Linked DNA regions of Homo sapiens. The protein of the gene in region 2 binds, or shares a complex with, the protein of the main gene of each other region. Each region holds a gene or a part of one and is shown on either strand. Other genes may lie near its edges.

Evidence for each region. Proteins that work in one complex are often made in the same cells at the same time.
Region 1: TOX4 (region 2) and WDR82 share a complex: the UniProt entries of both Homo sapiens proteins name them as parts of the PNUTS-PP1 phosphatase complex.

The regions. Positions count from the first base shown.
Region 1 is NC_000003.12:52,268,632-52,275,672, forward strand, and holds part of WDR82 (WD repeat-containing protein 82), read right to left. Parts: intron 2,179-7,041; coding exon 2,081-2,178; intron 1-2,080. UniProt on the Homo sapiens protein: Regulatory component of the SET1/COMPASS complex implicated in the tethering of this complex to transcriptional start sites of active genes.
Region 2 is NC_000014.9:21,494,176-21,499,692, reverse strand, and holds the end of TOX4 (TOX high mobility group box family member 4), read right to left. Parts: intron 4,465-5,517; coding exon 4,301-4,464; intron 3,148-4,300; coding exon 3,087-3,147; 3' UTR 1,436-3,086; coding exon of another isoform or gene 1,324-1,435; 3' UTR 669-1,323; coding exon of another isoform or gene 556-668; 3' UTR 523-555; downstream 1-522. Other genes in the region: N(6)-adenosine-methyltransferase catalytic subunit METTL3, read left to right, coding at 93-201, 322-387, 556-668, 1,324-1,435. UniProt on the Homo sapiens protein: Transcription factor that modulates cell fate reprogramming from the somatic state to the pluripotent and neuronal fate. In liver, controls the expression of hormone-regulated gluconeogenic genes such as G6PC1 and PCK1.

The sequences.
Region 1 (7,041 bases), on a different chromosome or scaffold from region 2:
TGCTTCCTTAGAAAACCACTTCTGAAATACAGGCATGAAAAGTAGAAATGACATACTTAACTAAAAATCAATACAGGCAGAAGAGTCTCATTAAAAAAAAAAAAAAATGGAAAAAAGGACTTCCGCCCATTCTGCTCTGAGATAGGCACAGCCAAAATAGCAGTATAAGCTATCCTTGTGGAATGACATTAGAAAAATCTTTTTTGTTTTTTTGAGATGGAGCCTCGCTCTGTCACCCAGGTTGGAGTGCAGTGGTGTGATCACCCTAGACCTCCAGGGCTCAAGCAATCCTCCCACCTCAGCCTTACAAGTGGCTGGGACTACAGGCGCGTCCCATCACACCTGGCTAATTTTTGTATTTTTTGTAGAGACGGGGTTTTCCCAAGTTGCCCAGGCTAATCTCGAACTTCTGTGCTCAAGTGATCCACTCTCCTAGGCCTCCCTAAGTGCTGGGATTACAGGCATGAGCCACTATGTAGCCACCGGCCTAAAAAAAACCTTACTGCAAAATGTGAGATGATCATCAATAATCCACTGAAATAAGTTTAAAAACAGAATCCTGGCCGGGCGTGGTGGTTCACACCTGTAATCCCAGCACTTTGGGAGGATGAGGCAGGCAGATCACTTGAGGTCAGGAGTTCGAGACCAGCCTGACTAACATGGTGAAGTCCCAACTCTACTAAAAATACAAAAATTAGCCGGGCGTGTTGGTGGGCACCTGTAATACCAGCTACTTGGGAGGCTGAGGCAAGAGCATCGCTTGAACCCAGGAGGCTGAGATTGCAGTGAGCCGAGATTGCACCATTGCACTCCAGCCTGGGCAACAAGAGCAGGACTCTGTCTCAAAAGAATAAAGAATAGGCCGGGCACGGTGGCTTACAAGGTCAGGAGATCAAGACCCATCCTGGCTAACATGGTGAAACCCTGTCTCTACTAAAAATACAAAAAATTAGCCAGGCATGGTGGCATGCACCTGTAGTCCCAGCTACCTGGGAGGCTGAGGCAGGAGAATTACTTGAACCCGGGAGGCGGAGGTTGCAGCGAGCTGAGATCGCGCCACTGCACTCCAGCCTAGGCAACAGAGTGAGACTCTGTCTCAAAAAATAAAAACAGACAAACAAAAGAAAATAAACAAAATTAAAAAATTAAAGAATTCTAACATGAAAATAAGTGTTACAGTTCAGTTACCAAGACAATCTGTTAACTTAGGATTTATCTCGAGACATGCAGGCAAAAACAGAGATTGTTTATTATAGAAAGAAACTCACAAGTTCAATTTCTAAAAGTAACTCTACTCTTTAGATCAAAAAACGTTCCTGGAATCAGAAGTGACTAAGGTTGGGAAAACACCAAAACTGTTCTAACTTCCCTTAAACTATCATAGTTCAAGCATTTGTGAAACTTTTCTCAAATCTCTATCATTTTAAAAGAAAAAGTCCTGTTGTTTATCACTTGCTGTGTATCAAGTGTTCTTTCCTTTTATTTGTTCTAAAAGTGTTCTTTTTGGAGATGGAGTCTCACTCTGTCGCCCAGGCTGGAGTGCAATGGCGTGATCTTGGCTCACCACAACCTCTGCCTCCCGGGTTCAAGAGATTCTCCTGCCTCAGCCTCCTGTGTAGCTGGGATTATAGGCGTGCACCACTGTGCCCAGCTAACTTCTGTATTTTTAGTAGAGACAAGGTTTCACCATATCGGCCAGGCTGGTCTTGAACTCCTGACCTCAGTGATCCGCCCACCTCAGCCTCCCAAAGGTTGGGATTATAGGCGCGAGCCCCTACGCCCGGCTTTAAAAGCGTTCTTTTAAGTGTCAGGAAGTACAAATCATAAACACAATTAGTTGTTTCCTTTTTCCACTCCCCACTCTGAATTGAAGACTTTTCATACTCAGTCCCAAGTCCTTCAAAAGTGCCAATGGCTTGCTTCCAGCATTCCTTCAGTCAAAACAATGCAATTAACATTACTAACATTATATGAAAATACTTAAACTAAAGTAGTCACAAAGCAGAAGTAGTCACAAAGATTCCATGAACTATTTAACAAAGGAAACCATGACCTTAACTTCCTAAAAAGGCTTGCTTACCGTCTATTTTGTTAGAGCTGTAAACAACTGTGTTTGCTGCATGAGTGTATCTGATGAGGTCCACACCATATTTCTTACTGTACAGGGTTCTCTTTGGTCTGATAAGAAAATAGAGACAGAAAATCATGAACATTCTCCATCATCAAAATCTGGGATCTCCACATAAAGAGAAGCACTTGAATGATGTGGCAAAGGTGAGGATTTTTGGTAAGTTCTAACACTGGAAAGAAACAACTTCTTCCAAAAGGGAAAAAACAACGCTCAAGCAACAGCCATCTGAAGAAGCTTTCCACCTTAGAACACCTAGTGGCAAGGTTAGGTGGGAAGTAAAAGTAAATCTGGGGATTCAATTCAGTCTTTACTACAATGTTCAAAAGCTTTGAGAAAAAATACAATCATGTGCCATGTGATGACATTTTTATCAACAACAGACAGCACATAGGGTAATGGTCTCATAAGATTATAATAGAGCTGCCCTCTACAACCGATGTTTCATTTTTTAAATCCCTTAAACTGTTTTACGGCACCTTTTCTATGTTTAGATACACAAACACTTAACGCTATATTATAATTGCCTACAGTATTCAGTACTGTAAAATGCTGTACAGGTTTGTAGCCTAGGAGCAATGGGCCATACCAAACAGCCTAGGTGTGTGCAGATTATACCGTCAGGTTTGTGTAAGTACACTCTATGATGCTGCTGCAACAAAAACTCACGTGATGATCCCCATCTAAGTGATGCATGGCTGTACATCTACTTGGGAAGAAAGGCACACAAAACAAGTCTTAACTTACAACAAAGAGGGATATGAGAATATGTCAAACCCAAGAGGCCAAACTTTTCTTCTCAAGACATCCATTTAGAAAGAAGCTCTGTGTTTTTTTTTTTCAAGACGGCAGTGATTCCTCAAAACTGAAACCAGATGCAAAACTGCTTGCCTTTGCTAATGTAACCTGCTCTTGCAGAAGACATCCATCCTTCCTATCCTACAGGTCAAAAGCGCTTGCTGAGCCTTTTAGAAGGCAAGCCTAACTTTCTCTAGCAAAACCAGTTAAATAGTTCCTTTGCTTTTACTTTAAAGCAAAATCACACATTTCTGGCCACAAGGTGGTGGCTCACATCAGTCATCACAGCACTTTGGGAGGCCGAGCCAGGCAAATCACCTGTAGTCAGAAGTTCGAGAGCAGCCCAACATGGTGAAACCCCGTCTCTACTAAAAATACAAAAATTAGCCGGGTGTGGTGGCACACACTTGTAATTCCAGCTACTCAAGAGGCTGAGGCAGGAGAATTCCTTGAACCCAGGAGGCAGAGGTTGCAGTAAGCCAAGATCGTGCCACTGCAATACAGCCTCTGCGACAGAGTGAGACTCCACCTCAATAACAGACAAAAAATCACACATTTCCAAGCTAGAGGTTATCAATCTCCATTTGTTGAAGTTCCTTAAATGTCTCCCTTTACAGAACCTTGAAGAGCAAGGCTAAAACTGGTCTCAACAGAACCTTTAACCAAAAACTCTAACACATACTGGTTAAGTTAGAAAAATTTTAGGCTGGGCGTGGTGGCTCACGCCTGTAATCTCAGCACTTTGGGAGGCCGAGGAGGGTGGATTGCCTGAGGTCAGGAGTTTGAGACCAGCCTGGCCAACATGGCGAAACGCTATCTCTACTAAAGATACAAAAATTAGCTGGGTGTGGTGGCCCACGCCTGTAGTCCCAGCTACTCAGGAGGCTGAGGCACGAGAATCACTTAAGCCTGGGAGGCAGAGATTGTAGTGAGCTGAGATCGCGCCACTGCACTCTAGCCTGGGCAACAGAGCAAGACTCCATCTCAAAAAAAAAAAAAAGAAAAATAAAAATTTGAGACTTAAATATCTATGTAAATCTAGATTCAAATGCTAAAATAACTCTCCAATACGATCAACTGAAAAAACAGGAAAGCCTTTAACATAATGTCCTACATTTAGTTCTTTAGAAAGATTTCATAAATCCTGTACTAATGTTAACCAAGAGTTCCAATTTATGAAAAGGAAAGCTAATCCTCTCAATGTAAAATCCTCTCAGAATCTAGGTACTAAACAATCACGACTCAAGCAGTCTTTAAGAAGTCAGTTATTTGCACTTTCAATTTTTGTTAAAGTGAGGCCAAGGGCTTCCCTACATGAAACCCATTTCCAACAGACTTCTCACTACAAATACACTGGATTTTCCACATTCTTACCTTTACTGAAATAACACTTCACTCCTAAAAAGATCAGCAAAGGCTACTTTGCCAAGTGCACTGTCTGGGGTTCTGATGTGGGGTTACTGTGTGGTAACCAGTGAGGCAGTCTCAGTGTGTGGCTGTATACTTACTCTCTACATAGTTGACTCTGCTACCAGTGGAAGAAGTTTATATCAGTTATTTCATCCCATCTACAATAGCAAAGACAGAAACTGGCCGGGCGCAGTGGCTCACGCCTGTAATCTCAGGCTTTGGGAAGCCAAGGTGGGTGGATCACCTGAGGTCAGGAGTCTGAGACCAGCCTGGCTAACAGGGTGAAATCCCATCTCTACTAAAAATTAAAAAAATTAGCCAGGTGTGGTGGTGGGCACCTGTAATCCCAGTTACTTGGGAGGCTGAGGTAGGAGAATCACTGGAACCCGGGACATGGAGGTTGCATTGAGCCAAGATCGCGCCATTGTACTCCGACCTGGGCAACAAGAGCGAAACTCCGTCTTAAAAAAAAAAAAAGACAGAACATGAAGAGCCAACTCTAACTTGACAAGTTGAAAGAGAATAGTGTAAGGAAAATTTCTGGTTCCACTTAGATCTGGTCTATTTGTCTCAAATTTATCAAAAACACTAACCTGAGATTTTTTTTCCTGATAACAGAAATCTACTGCCTCATTTCATTTCCCAATTTGATTTTTATTATTTTTATGTTTTTGAGACATTCTCGCTCTGTTACCCTGGCTGGAGTGCAGAGGCACGATCTCGGCTCACTGCAACCTCTGCGTCCCCGGTTCAAGCAATTCTCCCTGCCTCAGCCTCCTGAGTAGCTGGGATTACAGGCCCCTGCCACCAGGCTCAGCTAATTTTTGTATTTTTCTGTATAGACAAGGTTTCACCACATTGTCCAGGCTGGTTTTGAACTCCTGACCCAGGCGATCCACCCGCCTCGGCCTCCCAAAGTGCTGGGATTACAAGTGTGAGCCACCACACCTGGACTCATTTCCTAACTTGAAAGCAAGATTATACTGTACTGCATCCATGTGGGTCTTACAAAATACATGCACAACATTTTTCAAATATTTTGGTAAGCTTCCTTCCTCAAACTATAATTCTGGTGATCAAGCATCAACAAGGAAAATAATATTAACCTTTCACTTTGAGTAATTTGCTTCACCTACCACAAACAATATCCTTTATACTCTTCCAAATTGAAATATCACTCAATGGGCGAACTCCATTGTAAAGAAAATTTAAATGACCAGTAAACTGGAAAATACTAAGCACACAAAATCTTGCTTTAGCCATTTTCAAACTCCCAAATTCTAACACTAGGGTCATCTAATAAAGATACTATGCCTTCGGCCGGTCACAGTAGCTAACACCTGTAATCCCAGCACTTTGGGAGGCCTAGGTGAGAGGATCGCTTGAGTTCAGGAGTTTGAGACCAGCCTGGGCAACCTGGTGAGAACTTGTCTCCACTAAAAATAAAAATAGCCAAGTAAGTTGGCGAGTGCTTGTAGGCCCAACTACTTTGGAGATTGAGGTGGGAAGATCACTTGAGCCCAGAAGATGAAGGCTTTAGTGAACTATAAGCATGCTATTGCACTCCAGCCTGAGCAACAGGGGAAGACCTTTGTCTTAACAACAAACAAACAAAAAAACAAAACAAAACAAAACAAAAAAACAGGGCCGGGTGCGGAGGCTCACATATGTAATCCCAGCACTCTGGGAGGCCGAGGAGACCGAGGTGGGCAGATCACTTGAGGTAAGATGTTGAGACCAACATGGCCAACATTGTGAAACCCCATTTCTACTAAAAATACAAAAATTAGCAGGCACACTGATGGGTGCCTGTAATCCCAGCTACTCGGGAGGCTGAGGCACGAGAATCGCTTGAATCCAGCAGCGAGGTTGCAGCAGTGAGCCAAGATTACGCCACTGCACTCCAGCCTAGGAAAGAGTGAGGCAGTCTCAAAAACAAAACAAAACAAAACAAACAAACAAACAAAAAGAAAGGCCGGGCGCAGTGGCTCATGCCTGCAATCCCAGCACTTTGGGAGGCCGAGGCGGCGGATCACCTGAGGTCGGGAATTCGAGACCAGCCTGACCAACATGGAGAAATCCCGCATCTACTAAAAATACAAAATTAGCCAGGTGTGGTGGCGCATGCCTGTAATCCCAGCTACTCAGGAGGCTGAGGCAGGAGAATCGCTTGAACTCGGGAGGCGGAGGTTGCAGTGAGCCGAGATGGAGCCACTGCACTCCAGCCTGGGCAACAAGAGCGAAAGTCCCTATCAAAAAAATAAATAAATAAAAGATACAATACCATGCCTTCCCAAGGAAATACTTCTTTTCTTCTGAGGTCGGTTTGACCTATACTAGTGACAAAATTTTTCATCATATTATTGCCTAGAATGGAAACTAAAGAGGTTGTCTAATACCCAAAGAAGTAATCTGACCAATGTCACATACCTAGTCACAGGCCAAACTAGTACCCAGTTCCCTCCTAACTACCAGGCCACTCCTTCACCACAGATAATGAAACAAGGTTACAATTAATTGATCAGAGAAAACTCAAGAGCATGCCCTGTAGTATTGTATCAGTACTAAATTTCCTAATTTGGATAACTGTGCTCTGGTTACATAAGAATGTCTTTGTGCTTAGAAAATCCACGTTGAGCCGGGCGCAGTGGCTCATGCCTGGAATCCCAGCACTTTGGGAGGCTGAGGCGGGTAGATCACGAGAT
Region 2 (5,517 bases):
GACTATTCTGTGATTCCTTGCTTCTATAAATGGTACTACCCCTAAACTGTAAAAGTTTGGCTAAAATTCTAGTTCTTTTTTATGCCCCACAGGTATGAACGGGTAGATGAAATTATTTGGGTGAAGACAAATCAACTGCAACGCATCATTCGGACAGGCCGTACAGGTCACTGGTTGAACCATGGGAAGGAACACTGCTTGGTGAGCAGCAGTGGGGCCCAATTCAATAGGTGGAGCACAAAGAAGAATCATTTGATTTCTTACTGAGAAAAAGTTCAAAGGTGTGGTTTCATAAGGTAATCTGTTATCTGTGGTGAGCAGGTTGGTGTCAAAGGAAATCCCCAAGGCTTCAACCAGGGTCTGGATTGTGATGTGATCGTAGCTGAGGTATGTGCTTCCCAGGCCTCCAAAGCTTCCACATTTTTGTTGGTATCAGTTATTCATGTTGGGTGTATTCTCATCCCAGATTTTTCTCATTTAGATCATAAACATAATAGAAAGGGCTAGAATTGCAATCTTGTGTAACTTAAAAAGCAGCTAGTTTTTATTTCCTAGGTTCGTTCCACCAGTCATAAACCAGATGAAATCTATGGCATGATTGAAAGACTATCTCCTGGCACTCGCAAGATTGAGTTATTTGGACGACCACACAATGTGCAACCCAACTGGTAAGGTGACCAGAGAACAGGCTAGTCCTCAAGGGGCTATTATTTATGATTAAGGACAGAACTTAGTAGAGCTTCACATTGTTTTACACTAGTCCATAAATGAGCTTCACAGGATTCATAAGCCACTTAAGCTTGTATTTAAACTGTTTTATGAGATTCTACAAATATTCATTAGAAACTCAACAGGTTCTAGGACCCAAAAGCACTGCTCCCTAGGGTTTCTACTCTCTTCACAACCCAAGGATCTTCCTCAGCCATTCTGTGATGTATTGAATCTGCCCCCTGGTGGTTACGAAGTTATCTATTTAATCTGTCAATAATTACATCTTTCACCCCTTAACAGAGCTTAAAACACATGCTGCTAGCATTTTGCTTATCCAAAGAATACTCCCTGGTAGCAACTCTGTGAAGCAGGCCTGGCTAAGCATTAGTTACTAACCCTCAGATAATACAGATCCAGTCTATTTTAACACCAGAATCTATGCCAATTCTGAACTAGTAATTCTACCATATACTATTCTAATGTTAAGCTCTTTTTAGAATTGGCATATTTGATATGATGATAGGCAGTCTTCATTTGGTATGCATTTTTTAACAATATTAAACCCTCTAATTCCAGGATTTCTGGTTTGCCCCTCCTTTTACACTGTTTCAGGATCACCCTTGGAAACCAACTGGATGGGATCCACCTACTAGACCCAGATGTGGTTGCACGGTTCAAGCAAAGGTACCCAGATGGTATCATCTCTAAACCTAAGAATTTATAGAAGCACTTCCTTACAGAGCTAAGAATCCATAGCCATGGCTCTGTAAGCTAAACCTGAAGAGTGATATTTGTACAATAGCTTTCTTCTTTATTTAAATAAACATTTGTATTGTAGTTGGGATTCTGAAGTCCATTCTGGCTCTGCTACTTAACAGTGTATAATCTTGTGCAACTCATCTCTCAGTATTATATGTGAAATGGGAGTATTACCTCATTGGGTTGCTGTGAAGGTTCAAACTAAATGAGTGCATGGGAAACATTAAAATGATCATTATAGGCTAGGCACAGTGGCTCACACCTGTAATCCGAGCACTTTGGGAAGCCGAGGTAGGAGGGTAACTGTAGCCCAGGAGTTCAAGACTAGACTGGGCAACATAGTGAGACCCCATCTCTACTGCTACCCTCCAAAACCATTAAAAAAACAGGAATGCAGGCTGGGTGCGGTGGCTCATGCCTGTAATCCCAGCACTTTGGGAGGTCAAGGCGGGCGGATCATGAGGTCAGGAGTTCGAGACCAGCCTGGCCAACATGGTGAAACCCTGTCTCTACTAAAAATACCACAAATTAGCTGGGCGTAGTGGCGGGCGCCTGTAATCCTAGCTACTCGGGAGGCTGATGCAGGAGAATCGCTTGAACCCGGGAGGCAGAGGTTTCAGTGAGCTGAGGTCGCACCACTGCACTCCAGCCTGGGTGACAGAGCGAGACTCTGTCTCAAAAAAAAAAAAAAAAAAAAAAAACAAAAAACACACAGAAAACAGGAATGCATAGGATAAAACTATGTACGTAGCTGGTTGAGGAGGAGGTTCTCTAGGACAGCATTCCTGTCTACAAACAGTAAAAATTTGAGTTTTATTTAAAGTTATCACCACTTGGACTATCATGCTGTAAACTTCTGCTTATTCTGTTACAACCAGGTGGCTTCTCTAGTCTGTTTTTCTTTAGATTATGTCTAAGAAATAATGATAGACCTATGGTCTTTTAAAGATAGTTCATCAAACACAAGTGAATACAACTTTAGACTTTGGTGGAACCTCTTACTAATGATGTAGAGTTCCGCCTCTTAGATTCATGAACTGTGATAACTCAGATAAGGATGGTAACTGCAGAAATAATATATATAAAGAGAAATCACTCCTGGGTGATGTCATTTTCCATGTAGCCCAGTATGCCCATGTTGAAAAGTTTTGTTTTCAAAGCAGTGTACTGATGTGATAATGGGGAATAACATTTTTTTATGAGGGAACCCTTTAAAATGGATGCACACAGTGGCATTTTCTCCTAGGCTCAAAGCTGAGTACACTCCCGTAATTTTAATAATATTTTAGGCAAGTCCTATGACAATTATACCAACAAGTTTCTTCAACCCCACCACCACCCCACCATCTCTATGCTTTGCTTGCCCAGACTCCCTTCACCCTTTCCTCTGCTATTACCGCTTATGGTTGAAAGTAAAAAGCATCTCCAGATTACAGCAAATTCAGTGGCCCTGCTCCATAGCCTGGCCTCTGCTGAAGGAAGAAAAGGGGTGAAACATGAACAGCCATCATGGGTTGTGATGAGGCACTACCAGAAGCCCAGCTTGTGTTTCAAAAACAGGCTCTTGGACACTTTCCCAGCAGATAACTCTTCACTGGCTTGGAGAACAGGAAGGACTATTTCACAAACACCACTGTGTTTGAATTTCTAGAGGCTACCCAGGCCAAGAATACATCCCTAAGAGAGAAAAAGACATACACAAACAGAATTATACACAAACTGAAATAGAATTACAGCCTAGATACATTTTTTTTTTTGAGACGGACCTCATGGGTTCACGCCATTCTCCTGCCTTAGCCTCCCGAGTAGCTGGGACTACAGGTGCCCACCACCATGCCCGGCCAATTTTTTGTATTTTTAGTGGGGACAGGGTTTCACTGTGTTAGCCAGGATGGTCTTGATCTCCTGACCCCGTGAATCGCCCGCTTTGGCCTCCCAAAGTGCTGGGATTACAAGCGTGAGCCACCGCGCCCGGCCGCTACATTCTTTTTATCTTTTTTTTTTTTTTTTTGAGATGGAGTCTCGCTGTTGCCCAGGCTGGAGTGCAGTGGCGTGATCTTCTTGGCTCACTGCAACCTCCACCTCCCAGGTTCAAGAGATTCTCCTGCTTCAGCCTCCTGAGTAGCCAGGACTACAGGTGCCTGCCACCATGCCCGGCTAATTTTTGTATTTTTAGTAGAGATGGGGTTTCACTGTATGGCCCAGCTGGATTTTTTATCTGTCTTAAACAAATAGGTTCCCAGATAATTTCCTACAGCATTATGGTGAGATAGTATCACCTTGAAAATATAAGAACAGTGGGCTTAAAAGTCAGAAGTAGAGGCAATGCTAATTTACTGCAGAGTTTTTGAAATAGGAAATAGAAATGCCTTGTCCTACAGCTATAGGAAATTCCCAGGAAAATTTGGGGAGAGGGGTAAAATATTCCAACCATCTCCCCATTTCCTTCACAAATTGCAAATTATTATGTGTTACTTTCCACTTACCATTTCTCCCCAAATTCTAGTTCCCTAAGTAGTCTGATTTGCACCAAGAATTGAAAAGCTAATATTTGCAAACACTAACAGCTTAATGTATTATATTTTTAAAGAGCATACATAAGAGAGGTATGTGGTAACTGAAAAATGTGAACTGCTGATTACATCATCTTTGGCTTATGTGGCAAATGTAAGCTCTTAAGCAGGGGAGCTTTTCTAGTAGACCAGATACAGCAACCTACTCTACCTAAGGTAAGGTGACACTGAGATGCTGATTTTATGCTCAAGATTCCTATGTTTCCCAGTAGAATTGACCAGTAGCTGAATTATAAAAGGGAGAACTGTAAGCTCACCTGCAGTGCTTCACCACACACTCATTGCTGCAGTATTCATTGTCCCAGTCCTTACTCACAATGGGAGGGTTCTCACAACCAGACCTCACACATCGAGGCTGGGGTGAGAGTGCCACAGGAGACCCACTCACCAATTCAACATCCATCTGAGAAGGAGACTCAACCTGTGAGAAGAAGAAGAGTACCAAGGTGGATTAGATTGCTCCCTGCCTAGCTAGCTAGTTAGCTAAATTATCTGTAGAAACCAATGAAGCAACAGGTATTAGAATTCCTCACACTGGGGGGCAAAACTGCAGAAGAAGGTGAGTTCTTGGTCTCCCCTCTATAGTCCAGCTTCAGAACTTTGCCAAGCAGAATGGTGGAAGATTCTTCCCATCAGGAGAAAGGTGGCCATGTGCTAATGCTTTTTTTTCCCTGTTAAGCCTGGCTAGTCAAGCAGTGGGAATAGAGAGGTAGTGTTTTTTGTTTTTTTTTGAGACGGAGTCTTGCTCTGTTGCCCAGGCTGGAGTGCTGTGGCACAATCTCAGCTCACTGCAACCTCTGCCTCCCGGGTTCAAGCGATTCTCCTGCCTCAGCCTCCCAAGTAGCTGGGATTACAGGCGCCCATCACCGTGCCCAGCTAATTTTTTTTTTTTTTTTTTTTGAGACGGAGTCTCTCTCTGTCTCCCAGGCTAGAGTGCAGTGGTGCGATTTCAGCTCACTGCAAGCTCTGCCTCCTGGGTTCCCGCCATTCTCCTGCCTCAGCCTCCAGAGTAGCTGGGACTACAGGCGCCTGCCACCATGCCCGGCTAATTTTTTTTGTATTTTTTAGTAGAGACGGGTTTTCACCGTGTTAGCCAGGATGGTCTCGATCTCCTGACCTCGTGATCCGCCCACCTCGGCCTCCCAAAGTGCTGGGATTACAGGCGTGAGCCACCGCTTCCAGCCCCAGCTAATTTTTTGTATTGTTAGTAGAAACAGGGTTTCACCATGTTGGCCAGGCTGGTCCTGAACTCCTGACCTCAGGTGATCCACCTGCCTTGGCCTCCCAAAGTGCTGGGATTACAGGCGTGAGCCACCACACCTGGCCATATTTATGTCTGTTTTAAAAAATAACGGTATGAACCAATTAAATTTTTCTGCCTATACCCCCTGCCCCACACACATTTAAAACATCAAGCTAAGGAACTTAAGACCTAGGAGAAATGAAAAGCTTTGCATGTCCAAAGTTTAGGATC